Regions from separate parts of the Homo sapiens genome. Here regions 2 and 3 are each linked to region 1. The links come from fine-mapping of genetic effects on gene expression. A gene starts in region 1. Each other region holds a variant in brackets. All regions are shown on one strand. Distances are from middle to middle. Region 1 holds the start of OLFM4 (olfactomedin 4). Region 2 has its middle 56 kb from the start of PCDH8. Region 3 has its middle 56 kb from the start of OLFM4.

The links. PIP is the estimated chance that this variant, and not a neighbour inherited with it, causes the effect. A credible set is the group of variants that fine-mapping cannot tell apart.
Region 2: its variant is the best candidate, but not a certain one, in a credible set for the expression of OLFM4 in caudate (GTEx, PIP 0.72).
Region 3: its variant is the best candidate, but not a certain one, in a credible set for the expression of OLFM4 in whole blood (TOPMed, PIP 0.67).

The regions. Positions count from the first base shown.
Region 1 is chr13:53,026,735-53,030,976 of GRCh38, forward strand. OLFM4 (olfactomedin 4) reads left to right here and starts at 2,079. Exons shown (of 5, transcript NM_006418.5): 1 at 2,079-2,306. The coding sequence starts at 2,103.
Region 2 is chr13:52,902,354-52,906,595 of GRCh38, forward strand. No RefSeq gene overlaps it. Among named protein-coding and RNA genes, the nearest start is that of PCDH8, 56 kb to the left of the region's middle. RefSeq lists an enhancer at 3,718-4,242. The variant C/T (reference allele first, on the strand shown) is at 2,344.
Region 3 is chr13:52,970,836-52,975,077 of GRCh38, forward strand. No RefSeq gene overlaps it. Among named protein-coding and RNA genes, the nearest start is that of OLFM4, 56 kb to the right of the region's middle. The variant G/A (reference allele first, on the strand shown) is at 1,864.

The DNA of each region.
Region 1 (4,242 bases):
ATGACTACAGGCTATACCACTGTTAATGAGATTTTCTTTCTGACAGGGCACCAACATGCTCCTTGAAAAAAGGTACAAGGAAGGCTCATTACAGCCACATGCAGAGGCTACTAGCAAATGAGAACAGATTTGCCATTTGTTTTGGTGGGAATCGGGAGGAAGAGGGGAATTGTGCTGGGAGGTAGAGACACATTCTTCTCCTTATGTCCATATTCATTGCATTCAATCTTAGAATAATGGATTCAGTCTCCCAGTTTTCATTCTCACACATTCTGTATGCATTCCCTGCCTTGGACTGGGGATCTAAGTGGTTAGAACATTTGACCAAAGAGGCCAAGGCTGAACTGCTTCCCACAGAGAACAATGAACTTTACAGCCCACATTTCTCCCTATCTGTTCTTCTTCACTCTCTATCCATCCATTTGTGGTTTTCCTGTCTCCCCTTCCCCCTCCCCACCACCCCAGTTTCTGAATAGTGTACCAGGGGTTTAAGACCCTGTTTCTCACATTAGCACTGTGCTTATTCTGAGAGTTTGTGTGGAGCTTCTGGGGTGGGGTGGAGTGGGGCATGAACCTTCTCTCCTTGTTTTGAACCCAGCAATCTTACATATTGATCTAGTCTTTAGGAAATTAAACAAACAATGAAAAAGCTGACATTTTTATGGCACGTCAAAAGTCATAAGCAACTTCCCATACAATATTTCATTTAATTCAAACAATTTAGGAATTGTTACAACCCTAGAGGGGCTAAGTGACATGCTCAAGGCCACCGACTCATTGTGACACAGCTTTTTTGTTTGTTTTTGTTCTTTTGAGACAGCCTTACTCTGTCACCCATGCTGCAGTGCAGTGGTGTGAACATGGCTCACTACAGCCGCAACCTCCCAGGCTCAGGTGATCCTCCCACCTCAGCTTCCCAAGTAGCTGGGACCACAGGTGCATACCGCCACACTTGGCTATTTTTTTCATTTTTTGTAGAGACAGGGTCTCACCACATTGCCCAGGATGGTCTCCAACTCTTGAGCTCAAGCCATCCTCCCACCTTGGCCTCCCAAAGTGCTGGGATTACAGGTGCGAGCCAGCATCCCCGGCCCAGAGCTGGGTCTTAATACCGAGACTAACACCTTTTTCTTTCTCCAGGGAAGAAGGCAGAGGTCACAAAGGTGTGTGAAATGTTGAGCAGGGCAAATGGATCCTGGAGCCCAGGGTCAGAGCTGCTGAGCAAGAGAAAATGCATCTTATTTCTCAGTTTTATGAAGAATAAGCTTGAGATCTTGAATGCCTGGCTGGCTCACAAGAAGCTCAGGGGCAATAGAGGTCAAAGTTTTCTGGAGAGAGAAACTGCTCCTGGGGTCCTCCTTGACTGGGTTTGAGGCAGTGCCCTGGCCTGGGAGAGCGGGCACTGGGTCATCGGGATCCCTTTGTTTATTTGGGTGTTTTCTCTTCCCTATATGAAGCATACAGTGGTGAGTACTTGATAGGGCAGAGTCCTACCTGGTTGGCCAGGGAACAAAACGTTGCTGGTCTTTCCTTCAGAGTGGGGTTGTTAGACAACTTTGTCTAGAAACAGTCACTGTAAGGAACAGGTCAACGACAACTTGGGCAATAGGAACTGAAGAGGGAAGCTCAGTCGCTCCTGGAGGAGAGCCACAGTCCCTAAGGCAAGTTCCCTAACTGTCTGTGAAAAGTAGTATTCAGTAAAATGGGGGAGAGCACTAGAAGTGCTGTGAGGCAAAGGACTGAGGGTTGCTTTTCCTCCATGGAGCCTCCAAACTCTGTGTCATCCACAAAGACTACTTTGGTCTCATCTCTTTCAAGGAAGTACCAAGTGGGAAACCAAATATTGGGCTTTACAAAGCACATTTGAGTTAATGTTTGGCAGGGGATATCTGGATCCAAGGGCAGCTCACAGAGTGGGCCTCACTGACAAGGTGTGGGCCATGACTCAGATTCCTGGGTGTCCTGAACCTCCTGGGGCAGTTCACACGTTCCCTGGCCACTCCCTCTTTTCCTACATGCTGGCCATGGGGAAATCACCACTGGGCACTATAAGAAGCCCCTGGGCTCTCTGCAGAGCCAGCGGCTCCAGCTAAGAGGACAAGATGAGGCCCGGCCTCTCATTTCTCCTAGCCCTTCTGTTCTTCCTTGGCCAAGCTGCAGGGGATTTGGGGGATGTGGGACCTCCAATTCCCAGCCCCGGCTTCAGCTCTTTCCCAGGTGTTGACTCCAGCTCCAGCTTCAGCTCCAGCTCCAGGTCGGGCTCCAGCTCCAGCCGCAGCTTAGGCAGCGGAGGTTCTGTGTCCCAGGTGAGGAGGCCCCAGAATCTGAATGAGCTGCATTCATTCCCTTCCATTTGCTTTTGGGTACCTGAATACAATTTCATGGATGGCTAGACCTGGGCACTCTAAAAGATTTACGACTCATTTTGTTAACTATAGGTGCCCCGGAAATGAATTAAAGCCTCAGTAAAATAATTAAATTGTTAGCAAGAGAGACGATATCGCAGTTCTCCAGCTGGGACTTTTGGGAATATCTATGCTTTAGAGGAATTCTCAAATCTGGCTGCACATTAGAATGGGTGGCCGGGGGGACTCTAAAAGTACAGATGCCTGGGTTCTGTACTTAAAAAAATCCTACATAGATGTATACAAATCAAATATTTTAAAAAACCTCTCCCCAGGTGATTCTAATATATAGTCCAAGATGGGAACTGTTAGGGAAAGACTCTGTGAGTTGCAGCTCTGGGAAGTTTGTCCAGTTGTTTTGCTGCCTGGCAGGATCCCGGAATGGTGAACAGTAGCCCTCGAGGGAGTGAGAGCCGCAGTGCCCTAGTTGAAGCCCTGACCATTTCTCTTGGCCTGGTTTATAAAGGAGGTGGGTGTCAGAAATAAGGGGGGAGTTACTGGTCTTTAGCAAAGTGTTATTACCAGTGGACATTCGCCTAGGGGAGTGTTCACTCTTTGCAGTCTTCTTTACAGGGAATCTTCAGGACCATTTCCAGCTCCAAACAACAGTAGCAACAAACAAACAAAACCAAAAGTCATGCATTACAACGAGGCTGGTACAGCTAGGCTAAGTGCATTGAAGGCATAGTAAGCCAGTTCCGTGGGGGATGAGTCCTCTTTGGATCTCCTTTAAAGAAAGGAGAATGGGCTGGAGGGCATGAGAGGTTAGGAGGTAAGAAGCAGTTATTCATTTCACTCTGGGCCTTTCTGCGGGAACCCCACTCTGCAAACCTCCTAGGCTATTTTTGCTAAGGTATAACTTGGGGTGGGGGAGTCTTATCTGGGCCAAAGCTTCTCTCTCTAAGCCTCTAGGATCTTTCCTCACAGGTCAGGTAGCTGCTTACATTATCATGCTTGAATGGAAGGGCAAATGGGAGAAGGGGGAGGAAAAGACTTTTATTTGTTTTATTTTGACCATCAGAAATTACAGATAATAAAAATGTGATAATTAACAAATGATTTGGATAGGGCCTAGATAGAAACAGCAGCAATAACATTTACTGTGTGTCTAATAAATGCCAGGACTAGGTTAAGTACATAATATATATCTTTTTGTTGTTGTTGTTGTTTGTTTGTTTTTTGAGACAGAGTCTCATTCTGTCACCCAGGCTGGAGTGCAGTGGCACGATCTCGGCTCACTGCAACCTCCGCCTACCAGGTTCAAGCGATTGTCCCACCTCAGCCTCCTGAGTAGCTGGGATTACAGGCACCCGCCACCACGCCTGGCTAATTTTTGTATTTTTAGTAGAGATGGAGTTTCACCATGTTGGTCAGGCTGGTCTCGAACTCCTGACCTCATGATCTGCCTGCCTCAGCCTCCCAAAGTGCTGGGATTACAGGCATGAGCCACCGCACCTGGCCTGTATTATCTTATTTAACCCTAAGAGGTAGGTACAATTAATGGTCCCATTTTAGAGATGTGAAAACTAAGGCTTATCAAGGTGAAGTCATTAGTTTTAAGTCACTAAGCTAGCAAGTTATATAGCTCAAAATTAGTCTGTCCATTCTCTTCACCATGTCTGTACATATAGGTTTCTATATTTCCAAGGAGTATAGATGAAAATTGCTTATTTTTTAGTTAGAGGAGGGAGGCTTGGGAATCATAAGTAGGCACAAGGATTCTTTGCAGTCAGAAATCAGTTACATAAGTTTATTCTGTGATACTCAATGATTTCTGGGGATGATCAGAATTGTCTAGCACTCTTTTTTGGACTGAGGTTAACAATAATAATTTATT
Region 2 (4,242 bases), 120 kb before region 1:
AATATAGTTTTTTTTTCCAGACCAGAAATGGTATATTAAAAAATCAGCAGGCATAGAGCTTGTTTTAAAATTATTATTACTTTACTCTGGCTTTGCAGGCTTTTATTTCTTTCTCCTGCTGCTATTCCACAGAAATATGGAATAGTCTATCCAGAAAGAACTTTAGAGATCAGTGATTCTGTCTCTGCATTTCACAGGTGAGGACACTGGTGTTCGAAGACACAAGGTGACTTGCCCTGAGTGGAGGGCCTGGAGCTGGTACCCAGGACTCCTGATTCTCAGACTCTGTACTTCCCATTGAAAATTTTTTTCTCCCAAGGAATCTAAGACCCAGTAAGGGATCTGGGGAAGTGGCCTCATGCATTCCCTTGTGCATGACAGAGAGAGTATCAGAGGAATGGGAGGTGCATTTGCATCATTTACATATGTGCCCACAACCTGATATTAGCCACTAGATTATATAGCTACCTTGAATTTGAAAGTCAATTCTGACATCGCGGTTCAGTCGGAAGCATCATTTGGAGGATAGCTGAGGCTTAGAATTTGTTCTCTAGGAAGTCAAAACCATCTGTCCTGCAAGTACCAATCCCATGTTTGGGACTGTAGGGAGCATGCCTTCTCTCAGGGACAGCATCTGGGGCTACGACCTATGCAGGTGCCCAGTGTCCTTTCTTAGAAGGACTTTGACTTGCTTCAATGCTCTGCTGTCACTCTCTTGGAAGTCTTAAAACAGAAAAAAAGGGGACCTGCACTTTGATATTGCACTAGGCCCCACAAAATATGGAACTGTTTTTTTCCCCCACATTCCTCATTCTCCCCCAGGCAGCCTTTGAAACCTTCTCCAAGAAACCTTTTCTGACTCGCCAAGAGTGTGTTATATATTGTAATGTTAATGTTACAATGCTAATCATGTTAATCTCCAACATTAATTGCCTTTTTTCTGTAGGCCCACCCTGTGAGATAGATACTATTATTGTCATCATACCACTTAGCAGATGAAGAGACAGGAGAGGACATTGAGGCTTAGAGAGATTAACTGGCTCAAGGGTACACAGCTAAGAATTAGGATTAGAATCCAGGTTTGTTTGCACAGCACAGAGACTTAACCACTGTGCTATATATACAACCTCACTGTGTTATCTGTTCAGCGCTTAACATTCTGTGATGTTTTCTCGCTTCCTCTTCTTGACTGCAGGGGAGAGACTGTGTCCTTTACTGCAAAGACTGTCCTTTATTCAGTTTCACCCAGCATCGTACCTAGCACAGACAGGGTGTTCAATGAATATTTACTTTCAAAGGGCATTTGGCTAAATTTAATGTGCATTTAGCCATATCGGAACTTCCTGAAAACCAGAGAAGCTTCCAGGTTTGTTTAAATTTCTCCTGCGTATGAAGCTGCACAGTATAGCTGATGTGAGTGTTGTGATACTTTATATTTGACTTCATGAATTATTTATGGAATTAACACCGGAATCATGATTAATTTGTGGAGGGAGAGAAGTTGCTACGTGGCTTGGTGCCCATGTTTTCCTGGCAGGGATAAATTACCTTCCCAGCAGCTGTGGGGTGAAGACTCTGGATTCTGGTTTCCAGGAGAGACAGACATTTGTGATTCCCTCTTCTTTCTCTTTTTCCCACCTGAAAAACCCAGGAAGCACAATTTATGCCATAAACCAGTGGCAAGTGCTCTATATCTGTCAGCAGTGAGCCAACTCAGCTTCCCCCAACGTTTAGTTAACATATGTCTCTTACGCACATACTGTGCACCATGTTAGGTATGGGAATACAAAACCAAGAAGGCTTGTTTCTGCCCTTAAGGAGCTTTCAGTCTGGCAAGTGGAGACAGGCACAGAAAAAGACAGTACATGATCAGATGATCACTGAGAAGACATGCATGTCCTCCAGTGCTGGGGGGAAATTCCTGGCAGCGAGGGTTCATGCCTATAAGGGCCAAAAGGAATTAGACTACAGACCAGGATTGGAGAAAGGCAGAGGGGCAGCTTTCCACTGGGGAGTAACTCTTTAAAGGCTGGAGAAGGACCTGTGAATAGTAGAAATGGCTGGCCAAGGGAAGGGAGCTCAGACAGGAGCTGGGAAATGAATGTTAATTGTGCCTCCAGCTCAACCCTGGAGGCTTAGGGTGGTGGATGAAGTCAGTATTGTCCATGACCAGTATGGCTCCTGTGTTATCATTAGGGTGGCTCTGCAGGGAGCAAGATCTCACCCCGCTGCAGGTGATCAGCAGCTCTGTGGGACCCCCACATCTCCTGTGGCCTCAAGGCGAGAAGGAGGAATGCATTGCCCAGAGCCGGAGAGCAGGGAGGGGCCGAGCTGAGTCGTCTA[C/T]GCTCCTGCTCCATCAGCAAGTTTGCTTTCTGAGACCTACTGTATAATAGCAATCTCTTTCCCATTTTCTTCAAAGCATCATGAGGAAATATAACTGCGATTGGGTTCAGCAGCCCTCACTTTTGAGCAATAAACTACAAATGATTACAGTTTACTTTGATGCTTTTGGAATTTTCCTACTAGCTGCAGTAGTTTCCTGCCATTTGCTAGCTGGAGAGTAGCCTGTGGACGCTCACTCAGCCTTTGGGATGAGCCCTTGCCTCTATGAGCTTGTCTTAACACGTTATTTATTCTGCAGCTCTTCTCCTGGCTTGAGCAGTGCCCTGGGCTCCGGGGCTACTATGACCGACCACACTTAGGGGGCCTAACCCTGCCGCCCCAGCCTTTGAGGGAGAAAAGATTGCTCCTGACTCCATTTATTTCCAGGTAGAAAAGAATCAGAGAGCCCTGCAGGGTGAAGGCGAAGTCGAGGTACTCCAGATAAGTGTTTTCTTCTCTCTGTATTACTTATTTATTAAAGGCAGTGAGGTATAACTAAGAGAAAGGAAAGGAACCGAGGAAATAGAGAATACAATGGCCCTTCAGATTTTAATGGGAGAGATGGCTGGAAGTGATTCCTAAATTATTAAATAAATCGATTTGATTCGTGAAGCTGGCCTCCAAGGTGTATTTGTCAGTTTCATTATGATTGTCTTCAAGGGTAGGAAGAGTCACTCATGGAGAAAGTTTGTTTTTTTTTTCCCCTCTATTTTGAAGGCTGCAATTCATGGCCCCTGTCTAATTAAACACTCACTGCTTTGTGTAACAGGAGCAGTAGTCTTTCAGTTTTATTTTGGCTTCTGTTCTGATCTCATTTGTCTTACAGGCCGATAGACATGCAGCAAGATCGGGTTGGCTGTGGGGCAGACACACTTTGGAGAATGTCGATCCCATTGCAATTATAGGACTGTTTGGTCACTGAGGAGTTCTATGGTAATTTATTCACATGCAAGAGTCCTGTCACTTAGCTATTTGTCTAGGGGAATCCATTGAGTGTTAGGATAATGGGTTGTGCCCTCCCAAATGACGAGAATAACACCTTAATGCATTTTAGGGAAGTAATGGATTTTATTGTGGGGTTTTGGTGGTGGCTGCAGTGGTGTTTGCTCCTTTCTCTCACATTTCCCTCTCTTCCCCTGAACACTTCTACTGCCTGCAGCCCAATGTAAAAAATGCCTGAACATCTAAATTCTTTTTCTTAATTATCCTCCTGAGGAAAGCAGGCCAAGCACCAGGGTGCAAAAAATTTAAACCATAAATAACAAGCTGAAAGGAAATAAAAGAAATGACACCAGAATAAACTAAGCTATTAACTGAAAGCTTTACATCACAGTCCTCCCTGGGCCTGAAAAAAAATCTAAAGGAAGGTGGTTAAGTATTTATTTCCCAAAGAATGTAATTATAATCTGCAGCAATTAAAAATGGATGAAGGAAACATTTCCTCATCATTTCCGGGGGGTACTTCAGACACCGGCGCAGGGAACATTTTGGAGAATGTAGTTCCACTGCTTCCCTGAGGTCAAGTGAAGCTGAGGGACACAGCTGGCTCCTGCCAGGGGCACTACTGCTGTCTGGGTCTAAGGGGTCGGAGCAGGGATGGGAGAATGGAGGTGAGCAAAATAATGGGTAGTGATCGATTTGCAAGATAAATGAGGGCTCCTCTCTGGACCCGCTGCATAATTGTTCCTTTCAACTCAGTACACCTGGTGTGAAGAACTCCAGTCACAACTGTAAACCTGCCAGGTTTCCAATTAGGGGCTTGAATTTCAATTTCCTGGATGCTCCCTTAATCTTGGGGATGGGGAGAAGTTGTGTGTGTGCTGCAACACAAAGCGCTGAAGGTGAGGGAAGGGACGGGGG
Region 3 (4,242 bases), 56 kb before region 1:
CACAATCATGGCTCTCTGTAGCCTTGACCTCCTGTGCTTAAGCGATTATCCCATCTTAGCCTCACTAGTAGCTGGGATCATGGGTGTACGACACCATACCCAGCTAATTAATTTTTTTTTTTTTTTAAGACACAAGGTCTCGCTATGTTGCCCTGGTTGGTCTTGAATTCCTGGGCTCAAGCGATCTCCCTGCTTCGGCCACCTATGTCAGTGTGGCCTTGGAGACAACCATGCAAGCCTATTTTAAGAAAATCTGCTACATGAAAAATGGAATTTATAAAACCAGGAAATGAGGGCATGGCCACTCTTTTGGCACCCTAGCCCACCCCCACATGGCAGCTCAAAAAATTTTTAGGAAATTGTACATGAAAGCCACACATTTATTTTTTCAGCATTGGCAATGATGATTATTTAAGTGTTTAATCACCCAATGTTCACCCCAAAGTGCAAAGGATTCCTTCCAGATTCCTGTAAACCATGAACTTTCCTGGGAATATTTTTGGTGTTTTTAAATTTGCTCACTGTTCTTTTTAGGTGCTTCTCTATGGAGTGACCAAGGACGCTCTTAGGTGGCACAGAGGGACACTTGGATTGGAAAAGTTTGGGGAACATTAACACAGCCAGGAGGCCTGTAATCCAGGGTGGCTGGTTTGGAAGAGCCACTGAGGACATTCTGCAAATTAGACATTGCGCTTTTATCTACCCCTTGCCCTCATTAATTTTCCCCAATACATTGTTTTCCCAGGATTGCAATGAAATGTACCTTGTTCATGATTTGTCTAGTCATAATTAGAGTCTTCCTTTCTCTTGTTAGACAGTAATGCCAATAATGACTGCAAACATTTTGTCTCCTTTTAGAAAGGCACAGAGCCAAAATCATTATATCTGTGAGTTGATGTCAGATTTATAATGCAGAGATGCAAGCTTCACACTCCATATGTATGCCAAATTTTTATTAATCCTTTGGAAGGTTTAAACTGTGCATTAAGAAGATATCCTGTTTTTTTTTTTTTCCTGATGATTTTTTTTTTGGTCTTATTTATTTGTGCCGAAAAGCCAGAGCTTTCTGTTTACCATGACTCATTTTTAGAGGAGGTGAGTGGGAGTAAAGAGAGATGCAGGGAAGAGGAGTGGTAATGTGAAAAGTGAAGAGGAAAGATGGGTAAGGAAGGGTCTAGGGAGAATTGTAAAGGGAGAGGAGGGAAAGCTTAAGGGAGGAAGGAGGAGAGACTTAGGAACAAAGACAAGAGGTGGTGTGGGTGTGTGTATGTGTGTGGTGTGTGTGTTAGGGAAAATAGAGCGTTTAGAAAGAAACAGACAAAACAGAGGGAAAAGTTAACTTGATTGACTTGTTTTGGCCAGTTATCTTCACCTGTGCTTATACTCAGATATGCCAAAGAATAGTTTAAAAATAGACTGAATTTATCACATGTGGCTGAGCAGATTGCTCCCAAGGGAGTGTTTTCCTGGGCCCAAATTGTAGGATCCCACCAATTTTGCACTGCAGAAGAGGTAATTTACTTCACACAAGTGAGCACTTGGCTTCCCAGGAGAGTATTTCTTTCTTTCTGGCTCATGACAGAATGGGGTCCAATATTCCCAGCCTTGTTGGTGGGAATTACAAACCCATAAACCAAGGAAGGGAGATAATGAATGGATCTTGATATTACTTGGATGCGAGAAAGACAGCACCATCTTTTCTAGACTCTTGACTTGGGCACCCTAGCCCACCCCCACATGGCAGCTCAAAAAATTTTTAGGAAATTGTACATGAAAGCCACACATTTATTTTTTCAGCATTGGCAATGATGATTATTTAAGTGTTTAATCACCCAATGTTCACCCCAAAGTGCAAAATTCTCA[G/A]TTCCCTCCCAAGCCACTGGGAAAATAGGTTTGGAGTCTGATGAGCTGCCTGCTGCTGGCTCCCCTGTTTTCTGGCATCAAGGTTTCTCAATAGTGAACTCAACAGTTGCATTTTCTTTTTTTCTTTTTTCTTTTTTTTTTGAGACAGAGTCTCACTCTGTCACCAGGCTGGAGGCACAATCTCGGCTTACTGCAACCTCCACCTCCTGGCTTCAAGCGATTCTCGTGCCTCAGCCTCCCTAGTAGCTGGGACTACAGGCATATGCCACCACACCCAGCTAATTTTTGTGTTTTTTGTACAGATGAGGTTTCACCATGTTGGCCAGGATGGTCTCGATCTCCTGACCTCGTGATCGGCCCTCATCGGTCTCTCAAAGTGCTAGGATTACAGGCATGAGCCACTGCGCCCGGCCAACAGTTGCATTTTTCACCTGGTTTACTATCAGAAAACCAGGGAGCAGATAATTGTATTTCATGAGTCGATGGTGAAGGTACTCAGTTCCAGCCAAGGTCAAGAGGCTGATAATGTTCAACCAGGAGAAACAGTTTGTGTGAGAGAATTCATTTCCAGGTGCTCATTTTTACTGGAGGAAAGAATCTCACTTGGATTCCTTTGTATTCTTCTCCAACATGAAACAGAAAGTTCAGAATCCTCAGCCACTCTGGGGACCCTTGCTGAATTGGTGTGAGTGCAAGACTTCCCGGAAGACTAGAGGCTCTGGCTTTTAGGAGGATTCTCAACTTTCACGGATCTCCTCAAACCTACTAAGAAAGAAAATAAAAGTACGTGCCTGCAAATATCCTCCTCGATGGGCAGCAAATGTGCTGGGACCTTGCCACCTGGTTGTATTGGACAAGGAAATGAATGTCACCCTCCAGTCACACACAGGGCTGCTCCTGCCTCTGTCTGGAGCAAAATCAAGATGCTTCCCCAGAAGTGCTCCAACTGCCCCATGTGTGCCAGGCTTAGCCATCTAACATGTATAAATATCCAACATTCATCCCTCCATATTATAGATCAGCATTGTGGTCTATAATTATCTACCCCCCAGGATGACTCTGCAGTTTTCTGGGATTCCTGTTTTGATCATTTTCCAATGGAATTTGAGGAAGAGAGAAAGGGGAGACCTAGACTCCCCTCTTTGCTCTAGAAAAAAATGCACCAAAACAGGGTGAGAATGAAGGCAAACCTGTGAAGCCTGTGAATCTGTGAATGCTGTTCCACCAACTTGGAACACCCTTCTCTCTCCTATCAGCACCCGTTTACCTCAATTTTATTCATTTGTCAAGACTTATTAAGTCTCATCTGCTTCATGAAGACTTTCCCATCTATGTGTTCTCTCCCTCCCCTAGTCTCCTATGGTACCTACAATCTCTACCAGAATCTAATGTGAATGCAGACCATGTCTTGTATTTCTTCTCTCCTCCTTGCCTCCTTCCTGTGCCCCACACGGTGCTGGTCCATAATAAGCTTCAAGCAGTGTTTGTTGATCGACAAATTAAGATGAGCTCATTCTCCTTTCTGTAGCAGGAAACTGGAGCCATAGAAGTCATATTGCATGTCTCATGTGCAAGACTATCCCAATGGATTCCTGGGTCTGGACTTTCATTACAGGGCAATCTTAAGGGTAAAAGAATCTTCCCCTGTCCCCATCCCTCTTTTATTCTCTCTACTATTATTTTATATAGACGAGGTTGAGATAAAATGATGGTGATATGAGAAGGGCAGGGCCCCAGGCAGGGGGAAGGTCACCAAAGGTGAAGCTTGAGACAGTGTGTGGAGTCCAACTTGTTGAGCTTTCTGATGGTGGGGAGTGTGTGAATGTGTCTTGGGATCAGGCTTTTCAGAGGTCACTCTTCAGTCCTCCCAGAGACCTCTAAACAAATAGTGTGATTACAATGAGAACCTGAATGAACACCAGGAGGACAAAGAGCAGGGGCAGCCACTCTGCTATTAAGATTGGTGATGGTGGGCTGGTCATGGAAAGATTCACAGGGGAGGAGACCTTTAAACTGGGTTGCAAGACTGTGTCAGAGTCATGGTCCTTTAGCCTCATCAGTAGGAAGGGCTCCTAAAAGTCCTACAGAGGGATGCCCTGGTTCCAGGGCCCTGGATAGTGGCACACATGGGTACCTGTAGCACGAGTGCTCTCTCCTGGGCTGCCACAGACCCAGGAGCTTGGAGCGAGGCGGTGGGGTGCTCTGGTGATTTTGCCACCCTGTTCCCCAGGTACACAGAGCTGCCTCAGAGTCTTCCAGCTGCCTTGCTTGGGGACAAGGATGGCCAAGGCTGGCTGCTGGTGTTGTAGTGAGTCTCATAGCTTTCTCTAATGGTGGGGAAACAGACATTTGCTCTGGAGATTGAGCTCAAACTGGAAG